Homo sapiens: one gene and its partners. The protein of the gene in region 1 purifies or fractionates together with the protein of each later gene. This does not show direct contact. Each region holds a gene or a part of one and is shown in the gene's direction. Other genes may lie near its edges.

The links. Proteins that work in one complex are often made in the same cells at the same time.
Region 2: the proteins of LGALS9 (region 1) and CD58 purify together in Homo sapiens (affinity purification with mass spectrometry; 4 studies listed by BioGRID and IntAct, with this or other methods). This does not show direct contact.
Region 3: the proteins of LGALS9 (region 1) and SLC12A4 purify together in Homo sapiens (affinity purification with mass spectrometry; 4 studies listed by BioGRID and IntAct, with this or other methods). This does not show direct contact.
Region 4: the proteins of LGALS9 (region 1) and CLCN3 purify together in Homo sapiens (affinity purification with mass spectrometry; 4 studies listed by BioGRID and IntAct, with this or other methods). This does not show direct contact.

The regions. Positions count from the first base shown.
Region 1 is NC_000017.11:27,629,818-27,633,987, forward strand, and holds the start of LGALS9 (galectin-9), read left to right. Parts: upstream 1-1,370; 5' UTR 1,371-1,448; coding exon 1,449-1,487; intron 1,488-4,170. UniProt on the Homo sapiens protein: Binds galactosides. Has high affinity for the Forssman pentasaccharide. Ligand for HAVCR2/TIM3. Binding to HAVCR2 induces T-helper type 1 lymphocyte (Th1) death.
Region 2 is NC_000001.11:116,564,527-116,568,026, reverse strand, and holds part of CD58 (lymphocyte function-associated antigen 3), read left to right. Parts: intron 1-3,500. UniProt on the Homo sapiens protein: Ligand of the T-lymphocyte CD2 glycoprotein.
Region 3 is NC_000016.10:67,948,138-67,951,637, reverse strand, and holds part of SLC12A4 (solute carrier family 12 member 4), read left to right. Parts: intron 1-333; coding exon 334-498; intron 499-577; coding exon 578-676; intron 677-926; coding exon 927-984; intron 985-1,144; coding exon 1,145-1,319; intron 1,320-1,719; coding exon 1,720-1,838; intron 1,839-3,478; coding exon 3,479-3,500. UniProt on the Homo sapiens protein: Mediates electroneutral potassium-chloride cotransport when activated by cell swelling. May contribute to cell volume homeostasis in single cells. May be involved in the regulation of basolateral Cl(-) exit in NaCl absorbing epithelia.
Region 4 is NC_000004.12:169,627,078-169,630,577, forward strand, and holds part of CLCN3 (H(+)/Cl(-) exchange transporter 3), read left to right. Parts: intron 1-3,500.

The DNA.
Region 1 (4,170 bases):
GGGACAGGGTCTTCCAACCTTTCCCGAGCTGGTCTCAAGCTCCTGGGCTGAAGTGATCCTCCTGCCTCAGCCTCTCAAAGTGCTGGTATTATAGGCATAAGCCACCACGCCCTGCCCATTTTTCTAAGTTGGATTATTTTACACTCCAGTCTGCTGTGAATGAGAGTTCCAGTTGTTGCGTATCGCAATCAATTTGTGATTGCCTACAAATGATGTGCCGTGATGAAATTGTCCCTGGTGTCCGAGAGGATCGCAAAGAATTTCCCTTCCTTTCTCTCCTTTCTGCTCCCCTTGTACTGTCTACTCCTTAAACTGGTACTTGATCCAGGAACATAATGGGGATGGACAGTGCAGATGGCACACATGGCCTCAGTCTATTGGAGCATCTCAAAGGAATTAGTCTGCAAATTCTAGTGCATCTAGGTGGAGCACAGGAAGGAAGAGAGGTGCAGACTCACGTATGGCCCTGGGGCACCTGCCATCCTCTCGCACCCGTACAGCCCTTACCTGCCAGCACTTACCCTACCCAGCTTGAGTTCTGGGCCTTCTCACCAGCACATCGCTGGGACCTGGTCGACTTCAGGTAAGTTTATTTCATGGCTCCCTCCCCCACGACCTGCACATGCCATATGTTCCTTCCCAGCCCCATGTCACTTGAAATGTTCTATCATGTCCAAGACTTCTCTCCTCATCCTAAAGTGCAGAAAATAAGGATGGAGAAGAGAAGGAGAAGAGAATCAAGAGAGATTCATTGAGAGGGAGGATCAGAAGCTCCTGGGCACCCCATACTGTAGAATAAAAATATTCATTATGGTGTTTTTCTTGCAAAATATTCCCCTCTACATAATTATGTTTTTACATGAATAATATAAATTTAAACAGGAGAAATACTTTTTGAAGAGTCTGAGAATCTTCATAAAGTTCAGGCGGCCACGAATTAGCTGTGTGACCTGGGGCATGCCCCTTAGACTCTGAGCCTCAGCTTCTCTGTATGTAAAATGGGTTGAAGCCGCCCTTCCCCACAAGCACCCTGTGCACAGGCAATGCCCAGCCCCATTATTTTCTGGACTCCGTGGCCAAGCATGCTTAGGACACACAGCCACATACTTCTGGGCAGTGTCATCTGGCAACTTGCTGTCATGTCAGTGTGGTCAAGCATTGTAGACCTCTATGAACCAAATATGCTTCAGGCTTGGGTTGAGCACAGGAGAGGGAGGAGGGAAAGGTCACTGGGGCTGGGAGTGCCTACTTCCCTCTGTGAGTGTCACCCCAGTCCACCCAGTACCATACCTTTCTCTCTCTGGACCCACTTCCTTTTGCTGCCGGCTCCTCCCCATTGAATAACAGCCAAGTTGCTTTGGTTTCTATTTCTTTGTTAAGTCGTTCCCTCTACAAAGGACTTCCTAGTGGGTGTGAAAGGCAGCGGTGGCCACAGAGGCGGCGGAGAGATGGCCTTCAGCGGTTCCCAGGCTCCCTACCTGAGTCCAGTGAGTTCCAGGGCTATGGGCACAGGGCTGCCTCAGCCAGAGGGACACAGCTCTGGGGCTCTGAGGAAGCAACTCCTGGGTGGCAGGGGATGGGGGTGGGGGCATCCCAAAGAGAACACAAGCAGGGCAGAAATATCAGAGGAGGTCATCCTGGCACACCTGTGCCGTGCTGAGCTCACTCATGCCTGGAGGGATGCTCCTTCCCACGAGTCATGGCTTTGACAGTGTTGACTGAGCTGTCCTGTCCTGTCCTGTCCTGTGTGCTCAGGGGAAGACATGTAGAGCGGGGTGGTTCATGTAAAGAGGAAGCAAGCACGCTTCTGGGACAGTAAGGACGCTACCCGGCATGGTAGTTAAGGGTGCTTACTGTGAAGGTGGCCTCCCTGGGTCCAGCTATTTACTGGCTGGTGGTCTCTGGGCCTCAGTTTCCATATCTGTGAAGTGGGAATAATACTTGAGCCCCCCACTCCCAGGGTTGGGATATGGATTAAGGAAGTAGTGTATCTAGTGTGTTTGAACAGTGCCTGACACACTGTAGGTGCTTTGGGAGTGTTTCATGTTATTGGGTGTCTGAGGGCAGCAGGGAAGACCTCCCGAGGAGGTGTCTGTGCTCTGAAGGTTGGGCATGGGCATGTTCAGGGCATCTGTGGAGGGGCAGTCTCAGAGGTGAGAGGGGGGTGAGGACTGTCCCTGCAGCGTGGGGTCAGAGGGCGGCAGGTGCCTTGCTGAAACCCTGTGAGGTTTATGAGTCCCCTTCATACACGGAAAATCTGAGGCTCAGGGAGGCAGAGGCCAGTTGCCAAATGCCTCCAGATGGGAGTGGCAGCCCCAGGAGCCCAGGAGACTTCAGGGGTCACTGTGTCCTGGGCCGGCTCCTGTCATAGGATCTCACCCCGCCTTGGCAAAGAGCTTCCCGAGGGGCTGGAGAGGGTGGGCTGATGGGTCCTTCCTGGGTGGGGAGGCAGGGTGGGGAGGGTGGGCAGAGGCAGGGTACTGAGGGAGGGAAGCTGCCATGGCCCACCTCAGCAGAGGCCAGGGTCGGGCTTGAGTGCCCCCTGGTGACACTGAGTCCAGAATGAGGCTGCCTACGTTCTGGTCTGCAGAGCTCGGCTCTGCTTTCTAAACTCCAGAGAGAAAGAATGGGGAAAGGAGGCCTGTTTCCTCCTGGCTGTCACCAATGACACCTCAGCCACCCTGTGGAGGCCCCTGAGGTAGGACCTGCACAGAGGGGGCTGGGGGAAGCTGGAACAGGCCGCTGGTGGGGGCCTTAGGGTCAGCAGGTGCTGCCTTGGGCATGTCACCCTGTCTCTGGTTTTCTGTCAAAGAGGGGATCCCAGAGCTTCTTCCAGGTTCTGACATATTATTATTCTGGTGACTGGTTTTTACTTTCTAATCCTTGGATTCAGAAGGAAAATTATCCTACGGACATCAGAGAGTTAAAACAGGGCCTTGGAGTCCAGACAAGAAAGATGATCAGTGCAGCCCCTATGGGTGTCCAGAGTACCCCTCTACCCCACGGGGGCTCCCCTGGGTTGGGACAATTAAGCCTCACTTGGTGACCCATCTGGCAGTCGGAGCCACGCTTCCTCCACATGCCGACAGTGGGGGAAGGTCACGCGGTTCGCTGTCCTGCTGAGGAGGGCTGAGTGCCATGAGGGCCTGGCTTGGAAACCTCACTCCCACTTCTTGTCTGGCCTCATCTAGCCCAGCCTCTTTGGAGGGCCTGGGGGAAGCTGGAACCACGTGCTGTGTGGTCCAGGAAGCACTGGGAGAGCCAGGAATAAGGATGTTCTCAGCTTACTCATGAGAGGAAGCCTGTGTGGTGGTTAGAAGCGTGGGTGCTGGGGTTCAAATCCCAGCTCTGTTGCTGACCAGTTGTGTAACTTTGAGCAAGTGACTGAACTTTTCTGTGCCTCAGTTTCCTCATCTGTAAAAGTGGCCGGGGTTGCTGTGAGGATAAATGTTCCTAGTCATGCCCAGAGCCCTCATGGACACACATGGATCCAAATGCCACAGCAGCCTTAGCTGGTCAACCTCAAAACAACACATTTGTTCTTACAGTGTTGGAGGTCAGAAGTCTAAAATCAAAGTGTCATGGAAGGTGGCCAGCAGGACCATGGAGCCTCTGAGGCAGCGGGGCACCTTGGCTAAGAGCCACGTACTGGCCTCCTGCTGGCACGCAGTCTTGGCCAGCCAGGCTGAGCTCCCCACTTCGGGGTCGGGCCTGGGTGTCCTCTGGTGATGCTGAGTCCAAAACAAGGCTGCCCACATTTTGGTTCACAGGGCTCAGCTCTGCTTTCTAGACTTCCAGATAAGAAGAGGAGGAAAAGTCCCCGGTCTCTGGGCACTATCAGGAACAGAGAGCAAGTCATGACTCAGCAGAGGGATCGATTTGTTCAATGCAAAGAGCTGCACTGTCATGTCTGACATGAGCCAGGGGCTCAGCACACGGAATCGCACCCAGTCCTCTCAGAACGCTGCCAGCCAGGGGCTCAGCACACAGCGTTGCACCCAGTCCTCTCCAGAACACTGTCGGGTGGTGTTACTGTCCTGCCATTCAGAGGAGGGAACTGGGGCACAGGCAGGTCAAGTGACTTGGCCAGTGTCAGAATTGCTAGTGTACAGAGCTGGGAGGCAAGCCCAGTCCCGTGGGACCATAAATCCAGTGTGAAAATCCATCCTC
Region 2 (3,500 bases), on another chromosome or scaffold:
TGTCTGGGCTAGTTGCTTTACCGAATGTCCCTTTGGATGTGGATTGCCTGCTTGTTTCCTCATGATCAGATTCTGGTTGTAACTCTTTGTAGCAGGAATACTTCATAGCTATGTTGGGTCCTTCTCAGTGTGTCACATCAGGAAGATGTGGTCTGTTTGTCACATTATTGGAGATGTTAACTTTGACATTTGGTTAAAGTGAAGTTTACCAGATTTCTCCATTGTAGAGGCACCATTTTACCTTTGTAAGTAATAAATGATGTGTTAAGTGATGTTTTGAGGTTGAGTGAATATCCTGTTCTCCAGCCATTGTTCATTCAGTGGTTTTAGTATCCTATGGTGATTCTTCCCAGAATCCATTATCACTAAAATATTTTATTTTATTTTTTGAGACAGGGTCTCACTGTGTCACCCAGGCTGGAGTACAGGGGTGCTATCACAGCTAACTCCAGCCTCGACCTCTGAGGCTCAAGCAATTCTGCCACCTCAGCCTTCTGAGTAGCCAGGACTACAGGTGCATGCCACCATGCTTGGCTAATTTTTTTTTAGTTTTTGTAGAAACAGGGTTTCCCTATGTTGCCCAGACTGGTCTTAAACTCCTGGGCTCAAGTGATCCTCCCTCCTTGGCCTACCGAAGTGTTGGGATTACAGGCATGAACCACCACATCCAGCCACTAAAATATTTTCAAATGGTAATTTTCTTCCCCCACCCTTGTCCCTTTCTTCTCCCTCCCTCCCTTCCTTCCATCCTTCCTCTCTCCCCTCCCCTCCCTCCCTCCCCTCCCCTCCCTTTCCCTCCCCTCCCCCTCCCTTCCTGTCCCTTCCCTTCCCTTCCCTTCCCTTCCCTTCTTTCCTTCTTTGTTTCATTGCCTTTTCTCTTTTCTTTTGAGACACAGTCTCACTCTGTTGCCCAGGCTAGAGTATAGTGACACAATTATGGCTCACTGCAGCCTTGATCTCCCAGACTCAAGCGATCCTCCCACCTCAGTTTCCAAATAGCTGGGACTACAGGGACATGCCTTCACGTCCACCTAATTTTTTTGTATTTTTTATAGAGACGGGGTTTTGCCATGTTGCCCAGGCTGGTCTTGAACTCCTGGGCTCAAGCAATCCTCCCAAGTCAGTTTCCCAAAGTGTCGGGATTATAGGCATGAGCCACCCAGCAATTTTCTCTTCTGTTTCTCTCTATATATATATTTATTAGTTTACATTGTTCAGTAATGGATAGCTTTTGCACACACATCCTCCCTTTTTTTCTTTTATTTTAGAAGGTTATGTGGACTCATGGATTCTTTTTTAAATATGGCATTCCTGTCATCCATTTTGATGCTCGGCAACCCCACATTTGACAAGTGGGAACACCTTCAAGCTTCAGAGTCCTTTTGCTCTGTTTGTTCCTGTTTGATTTTAAACACTTCCTTACTTTCTGGCACAGAAAGATGTTCTGGACTCATCTTGTAGTGTTCCTGCCTCAGCCTTCGAATCATTAGGTTCCCTGGTTTCTTTTAGTGAGAGATGGTATTTAGAAATCAAGTTCTGGGTGCAAAGTGTGCCCACAGGTACCAGAGTCATTGCTTCTCAGCCTTGTCAGTTTTCAAAGTTAAGAAATAGAGTTTTTACAAAGTCAGGAGTTCACCCTGATACTTCTAACACTAATAATCTTGCTGCTTAGTTCTTCTGCCTCTTCTGCTCTTCCATATTTGCATCTCCTTACTCCCACAGTGAGAACTCTGTTCTTAGTAGCATCAGTATATTTTCCTAATCTACATTAAACCCCAAATCATTTTACAGTTGCTATACCAATCTACTACCAACTACAAACTTACTAAATACAGTTAAAGATTTCTTTACAGTTCCTTTTATTTTTCATTACAGTCTCCAACTTAGCAATGGTTCGACTTAAGATTTTTCAACTCTACAATGAGTTTTTCAAGATATAACTCCATAATAAGAAATATCTGTATATCCCAGTGAATATGCAATACTATATTCAAAAGTTACTTGGATTCTGGCCGGGTGCAGTGACTCATGACTGTAATCCCAGCACTTTGGGAGGCCAAGGCGGGCGGATCACAAGGTCAGGAGATTGAGACCATCCTGGCTAACGCAGTGAAACCCTGTCTCTACTAAAACAAAAAATTAGCTGGGCATGGTGGCACACGCCTGTAATTCCAGCTACCTAGGAGGCTGAGGCAGGAGAATGGCCTGAACCAGGAGGCAGAGACTGCAGTGAGCCAAGATTACAACACTGCACTCCAGCCTGGGTGACGGAGTGAGACTCTGTCTCAAAAAAAAAAAACAAAAAAACAAAACAAAACAAAAAAAAGTTATTTGGATTCTTTTTTTTTTTTCTAACTACCCTTCTTAAACAAGGTAACACTCTATGTATTTTTTTGTATCTCATTTTTGTCACTTAACCATACATCTGGAAAATCATTCCCTATCACTTCATAGAGATCCACCTCATTCTTTTTCACAGCTGTACAGTCCCTCATAGGGTGGCTATATGGTAGTTCATTCAGCTACCCTCTGCTGGTTAGTATTACATAGTGTGGTCAGGGAGGGTCTCTTTAATAGGGTGACAATTGATCATACACTTAAGGAAGTGAGAGATAGGCCACAAGGCTATCTGGGGGAGTGATATTCCAGGTCTACTACTCAGGACCCTGAGATAGGCTTCAAGCGTTTAAGAAACTTCAAGGATACCATTGTGGTGGAGAGTGGTAGAAAATGAAGTTATAAAAGTAGTCAGGGTTGGATCCTGTAGATAAAGTTTTTAGGGCCTTTTAAATATTTTGGCCTTTTTGCTTTCAGTGACTGGAAAGTTTTGAAGGATTTTGAACAGGAGTGAAATTATGATGACTTGGATGTTTAAAAGAATTATTCTGGCTGCTGGATGAATAGTCTGTAGAGGAGAGAAAAGGAAGAGCAGGGAGGTTGGTTAGGCTGCAGGGGCAATGCAGGAAAGGAATCACTGGGGGTGGGAGATATCTGGATGTGTTTTGAAGGTGGAGCTGGCAGGATTTGGTGTGGGCTTGCATTAGTGGAATGACATGTGGATAGGGCCTGGATAGTGCTGGGCAAGTAGCAAGAACTCAAAAGTATGAACTTGGCTGAGAGTGGTGGTGCATGCCTGTAATCCTAGCACTGAGAGGCTGAGGTGGGCAGATCTTTTGAGCCCAGGAGTTCGAGACCATCCTAAGCAACATGCTGAAACCCCATGATATGGTTTGGCTCTGTGTTCCCACCCAAATCTTACGTTGAATTGTAATAATCCCCATATGTCAAGGGCAGGGCTAGGTGGAGATAATTGAATCATAAGGGCAGTTTCCCCCATACTGTTCTCAGATAGTGAATAAGTCTCACAATATTTGATGATTTTATAAATGGGGATTCCCCTGCACAAGCTCTCTCTTGCCTACTGCCATGTAAGATGTGCCTTACTTCTCCTTTGCATTCTGCCATGATTGTGGGGCCTCCCTGGCCAGGTGGAACTGTGA
Region 3 (3,500 bases), on another chromosome or scaffold:
AGCGTCCAAGGCCTGCAGCAGCCTGTCTTCCCCAGCCACCAGCCCCTGACACTGCCTGGGGATGTTCCCACAGGATCCATAAAGGCCTCTGTGGAAGGCGGGCAGTGGCGGGCTCTGGGTGACGGTGGTTCAGCCACCTTTGTCTGTCGACTTCTAGCTGGGCAGCTCCTTCTCTGTGGTCAGGGTAGCCCTGTGGCTGACGCTGCAGTCATTGGGCTGAAGCTGTTCCCTGAGTCCCCAAAGTTGCCCTGCATCTGCGCCTCTGGCTAGGCTGCCCCAAACTACCTGGGGTAGTGGGGGGCAGCTGTGGTGGTGACACAGCTACCCCTGCAGAAAACCTGTGGAGCGCCTACCTGGAGAAGGGTGACATCGTGGAGAAGCATGGGCTGCCCTCCGCAGATGCCCCGAGCCTGAAGGAGAGCCTGCCTCTGTACGTGGTCGCTGACATCGCCACATCCTTCACCGTGCTGGTCGGCATCTTCTTCCCTTCTGTAACAGGTGAGCCCTGCCTGCCTACCCACCCAGCCCTGTCCCCAATCCCGGGGAGCCCCTGAGGGAGTCTCATCTGTTTTTGGAGGCATCATGGCTGGCTCAAACCGCTCTGGGGACCTTCGTGACGCCCAGAAGTCTATCCCTGTGGGGACCATTCTGGCCATCATTACAACTTCCCTCGTGTGTATCCTTTCCCAGGCCTGGGGCAGGTGGGGCAGAGGACGGGAAGCGCTTGGCCTGTGTACGTTGCCAGGTCACATGCACAGACACCCCACACACTCATATATAGCTCCCCTTCTCATGCACACATGCACATACACACCACGAGACTCCCAGCTGTAGGTGTCCTGGTAGTCTGGCTGGGGTGGGGGCACGTGGTACTATTCAGGGACAGTGGGGTGGCAGAGGCCGAGTTTTCCTTGACGCCGCCGCAGACTTCAGCAGTGTGGTTCTCTTTGGTGCCTGCATTGAGGGTGTGGTTCTCCGGGACAAGTGAGTGAGCTGGGCCCCCCTCTTTAGCAGCGGCTGGGCTTTGGCCTGCCCTCACACCAGCTCCCAACCCCGTGGGTGGTCCTAAGCCTGCTGGCTGCCTTTGGTGGTCTGTGCCATCCTTCCGGACCCCTGACATCCCTCACTCTGGTGGCCCCTGCAGGTATGGCGATGGTGTCAGCAGGAACTTGGTGGTGGGCACACTGGCCTGGCCTTCACCCTGGGTCATCGTCATCGGCTCCTTCTTTTCAACGTGTGGCGCTGGCCTCCAGAGCCTCACAGGGGCACCACGCCTATTGCAGGCCATTGCCAAGGACAACATCATCCCCTTCCTCCGGGTGAGCCCCTCTGCACTCCCCCATGGCCTGGCTGCTCCCAGGCCCTCGCCCGGCTGGGGAGAGAGATAGGGAACACAGATGCAGCACGTCCTGCCCTTATTGGCCCCCGGGGCCAGGCGGCCATCCATGAGGAGCTACTGAGAAGTGCCCTGGGCCTGGCACTCACCTGGGCCTGGAGCTGCCTGGACCCAGAATCTTCATGGCCTGTTTAGGGCTCATCCAAAGGAGAGAGGCCTGGTGAGGTGGAATCAGGGAGACTGGTGACACCCATAGGGATAGACACAGGGGCGGCCTGAGCCCCCAAGGCGGGCCCTGGGGGTGAGGGAGGCCAGGCTGGGGTCTGGGGCCCAAGGTGTGGAATGGGGGTGACAGGACCCAGCTTCCTTCCTGGTGCACACAGGTGTTTGGCCACGGGAAGGTGAATGGTGAACCCACATGGGCACTCCTCCTGACGGCACTCATCGCCGAGCTGGGCATCCTCATCGCCTCCCTCGACATGGTGGCCCCCATCTTATCCATGTGAGCTGGGGCCGGGCAGGGCAGGGGGATGGGGAAAGGCTTCCTGAACCCCAGCACCTCCCCGTGGCTGCGTCTGGTGTTGGAGGTCCAGCTGGGAGATGTGGCAGGCTGCATGGGGAGATGTGGCCTGACAGGGCTCAGCCCACCCCTGCATTTAGGAGCAAGCCTGGCACCTATGCCAAAGCTATAAGGTGACCAATATGTCCACACCTCCCTGAGGCCCCCAGAGCAGGTGGCCGGCAGACCTTCCCACTGGACAGGGCAACCACCGCGTCCCTCATGCCTCCATGAAGCCACTGCTGCCCCTTCCATCTGTTAGTTTGTTTTTTGGTTTTTGTTTTTTTTTTTTGAGACAGAGTCTCACTCTCTCACCCAGGCTGGAGTGCAATGGCATGATCTTGGCTCACTGCAATCTCCGCCTCCTGGGTTCAAGCAATTCTCCTGCCTCAGCCTCCTGAGTAGCTGGGATTACAGAAATGCACCACCACGCCCAGCTAATTTTTTGTATTTTTAGTAGAGATGGCGTTTTACCATCTTGGCCAGGCTGGTGTCGAACTCCTGACGTCAGATGATCCACCTGGCTCGGCCTCCCAAAGTGCTGGGATTACAGGCGTGAGCCACCATGCCCAACCCATCCATTTTCAAAGTCATTTGCTTTTAACATTCTGGAATCAGCCAGGCAAATCTGCGTGCCAGTGCCTTGCAGGGAGTGGCCAGCATGTGGTGACTCCCAGGGACCCCGAGGCAGCGCTTGTTTGGTTGACTCTGTCCAGGCTGGGGTCCTCGCCCACCCTGCTCCGTGGCTGACGCTCCTTCTTGCTTGTGCGGTTATGAAAGGCCTCCTCTTCCCTGCCCACTCAGCCTGCAGACTTGACAGGGGCCCTGTACCCCTGAGCAGGCTCCATCCCAGCTACAGCCAGGCCTGCTGGAGCCAGCACCCTCTTGTCCACCCCCCCACACCCCTTCCTCTCACCCAAGAGCACACCTGAAACTGTTTTGCCACAGCCATCTTGGGTGGTGACCCCCCTTGTGCCCAAATCAGAGGCTACATCTCAGCCTTTATCTCGGGCCTCCTGCTGGGAGCCCCTGCCCCCTGGCATGCCCTGTGTGGGTCCTCCTGCCTTCCTGCGCACCCGTCCTCGGGTGCCTTCCTGGAGGGCTCATGCAGCTGGCCCTGCCCATGCGTGGGACTCCCACGCCCACCGCAGTGACTCTTAAGTATCTCTGACTGGTTGCATTCAAATGGTCCAGCTTATCTTCCATCCTCCCCTTCATGCATGGCAGCCTCTCATCCAGCTGGTCACTCAGGCCAGAGGCCTGAATGTGGCCTAGAGTCTCCAGGCACTGAGCTCTTCCTGCTGCCCCTGCACCACCCTCTTCAGCTCTGCCCTGTTACTCCCCTTCCTACCTCCTCCAACAGCAAACCCTTGCCCATCCTCTGCGATCTGGCTCCGAGGACTCCTCCACAGTAGTCTCATTGCCTCAGGCCATGGAGGTGGCAGCAATGAGGTTGAGAAGACCTTGCTGAGCCATGCAGGGCAGGGCCGGGCCACGCCCCGTTTCTGGGCCAGGCCCAGCCTGACATCAGGTCCCCAGCTGCCGAGGAGGCTGCTCTTCGCCAACCGCCCTCTGTGCCGCAGGTTCTTTCTGATGTGCTACCTG
Region 4 (3,500 bases), on another chromosome or scaffold:
TCTAAAGTTCTTCATGGTTTCCCCTGTGTATAGATGAGTATGTAAGTTTCTTAGTGTGACACATGAACCCCTCCCCTTCATGATCTGGCCTATGTCTGCCTCTGTAGCTACTCTCTGGTCCTTTACCTCTTACATAAGCTACCCAAGCAGGTTTTACTATGATGCTTTTATGCTGTTGCGCATACTTTTTTTGTGTGTGTGCCTGTATTGACTTTTTACCTCACAGCCCAATTAATTTATCCTAATTCTTCAATATTTTGCTAAAATATTCCCTCTATTAAGTGCTTACGGACTGTGTGCCAGCCAGCTTGCTTACTTTTCTCAGGTTTATCAAATACATTGTATGTACCTCTCCTGTGATGTGTATCATACCATATTGTTGTTACTTGTTGATGTCTGTCACCTTCACTGCCTTAGGAACAGAAACCATATCTTATTCATTACCCTAGCATCTGGCTTTGTGCCTGGTACATGCTAAGTGTGCAGTCAATGATTATCAAATAAATTAATAAATGACTCCAAAAACTAGCTTTGAATACTAGATAAATGGTGATCCTGTAAACTGAGATAGGAAAAGTAGGAGGACAAGGACTTTTGGGGCAAATATTTATTTAGTTTAGGTCTTGTTGAGTTTTAGCTCTTTTACAACATCAAGGAAGACATGTACCATTTATTTCTTATACATTTGTTATTTATTCATACAATATAATTAACCCAACAAGATTTTTTTTAGATATGGACAAGATTATTCTAAAATTTACATGAAAAGGCAATGAAAAAGAAGAATAAGGTGTGAAAGATCAATCTACTCAATTTCAAGACTTATTATGTAGTTACAGTAATCAAGACTGTGTGGTATGGGCATAGATAAAGACACAGATCCGTGGAACAGAACAGAGAACTCTGAAATAGATCCACATAAATATACCTAGTTTTTGTCAAAAGCATGAAAACAGTTCAACGGAGGTAGATAACTTTTTCAACAGTTGGTACTGGAGCAATTAGACATCCATACACTGTCCCATTCCCAACCCCCCAATAAAGGAACCTCAACCTATGTCTCATACCCTGTGCATGCACAAATTAAAATGGATCACAGACTGAAATATAAAAATATTAAACTATAAAATTTTAGGAAAAATAGAAGAAAATTTTGGGGAGGTAGGGTTAGGCATATGTTTCTTTGACTTGCCACCAAAAGAATACTCCTTAAAGGCAAAATTGATAAATTAAACTTCATCAAAATTAAGTATTTTTGCTCTGTTATAGACCCTGTTAAAAAGATGAAAAGATAAACTAGAGAGGGGAGAAAATATTTGCAGACAACACAACTGACAAATAACTAGTATCTGTAATATATAAAGAACTCTTAAAAGTCAACAGTATGAAAGCAGTCCAGCTAGAAAACGGACAAAAGACATAGTCATTTCACTGAAGAGGATTACACATATAGCAAATGAGCACATAAAAAATGTTCAGCATCATTACCCATTAGGGAGATGCAGATTAAAGCAACAAGATACTACCGTACATCTATCAGAATAGCTAAAATAAGAAATAGTGACAACACCAAATGCTGGCAACGAGGTCAAGAAACTGGATCACTCATACATTGTTGGTAGAAATGTACAATGGTACAGCCACTCTGGAAAACAATTTGGCAGTTTCTTTAAAAAACAAATATGTGACTACTGTATGACCCAACTATTGTACTCTGACATTTAGCCCAAAGAAATAAAGGCTATTCATTTTCAAAAACCTGTACATGCATGTTTGTAGCAGCTTTATTCATAGTCACCAAAACATAGAAACAAGCCAGATGTTCTTCAGTGGGTGAATGGTTAAACAAACTGTGGCATATCTGTTATCATAGACTACTCTGATAAAAAGGAAGGAACTATTGACACATGTAACACCCTGGATGAATCTCCAGAGAATTGTGCTGAGAACAAAGAGTTAATCCCCATATCATATCATTTATATAACATTCTTGAACTGGCAAAATTATTGAAGTAGAAAACAGACTATGGGTTGCTAGGGGTTAAGGAGGGATGGCCATAAAACGGCAACATGAGAGATACCTGTGGTGATGGAATATTCTGTATCTTGACTGTATCAATGTCCTTATCTTGATTGTGATATTGTACTATAGTTTTGCGAGATGTTCCCATTAATGGAAACTGGGTAAAAGATATACAGGATTTTTTTCTGTATTATTTATTGTAACTACATGTGGAACCACAATTATCTCAAAATAAAAATTTAATTAAAAAAATTGAACATCTACTGTGACACATTTTTTTTTTTTGAGGCAGATCTTGCTCAGTTGCCCAGGCTGGAGTGCAGTGAGTGGTGTGATCTCAGCTCACTGCAACCTCTGCCTCCTGGGCTCAAGTGATTCTTCTGCCTCGGCCTCCTGAGTAGCTGGGATTACAGGCACTCACCACTATGCCCGGCTAATTTTTGTATTTTTAGTAGAGACGGGGTTTCACCATGTTGGCCATGCTGGTCTTGAACTCCTGACCTCAGGTGATCTGCCCTCCTGGGCCTCTTAAAGTGCCGAGATTACAGCTGTGAGCCACTGCGCCTGGTCTAATGTGACATATTTTGCTAACCATTGAGTATACAGTGTTGAGCAAAAATTGAGTGTCAGACCTCATGACACGTTCTACAATGGCAGACAGATATTAAATAATCACAGAAATAAATTTAATATTCAACTGTGGTAAGTGCTGTAAAAGAGAGCTATAAGAACTAATAATGAGAAAATTTGATCCAGATAGTAAGTGGGTCAGCGAAGCTTTGCTTACTAACTGCATGACTTTGGGCGAGTTATTTACATGCTTTGTGCCTCAGTTCCTCATTTTTAGTGGGGACAATAATAGCACCTATTCTTTAAGGTTGTCATATATTTAATATGAATATTAAATGAATGAATTTGTAAAGGGCTTAAGATATTGCCTAGCATATAGTAAGCTCTGGTTAAGAGTTTGTTAAATAAAGGGATACTTGATGTAAGACCTTGTAAGAAAAATGAGTAGGAGAGTTAATTCTTTTTTATTTTTACAATTTCAACTTTTATTTTAGATGTGCAGGTTTATTCCATGGGTATACAGCATGATGCTGCGGTTTGGGGTACAGTTGTACCCATTACCCAGGAAGTGGGTATAGTGCTCAACAGTTTTTCAGCCCTTGCTTCCTTCCCTACATTGCCCGCGCTGGTAGTCCTCAGTGACTATTGTTGCCATCTGTACATCTGTGAGTACCTGATGTTAAAGCTCCCACTTAAAATGAGAACATGCTGTATTTGGTTTTCTGTTACTGTGTTAATTCACTTAGGATAATGGTCTCCAGCAGCATCCCCATTGCTGCAAAGGACTTGATTTTATTCTTTTTATGGCTGTGTAGTGTTCCATGGTGTATATGTACCATATTTTCTTTTCTTTCCTTTTTTTATTTTTATTTTTTTTTGAGACAGAGTCTTGTTCTGTCGCCCAGGC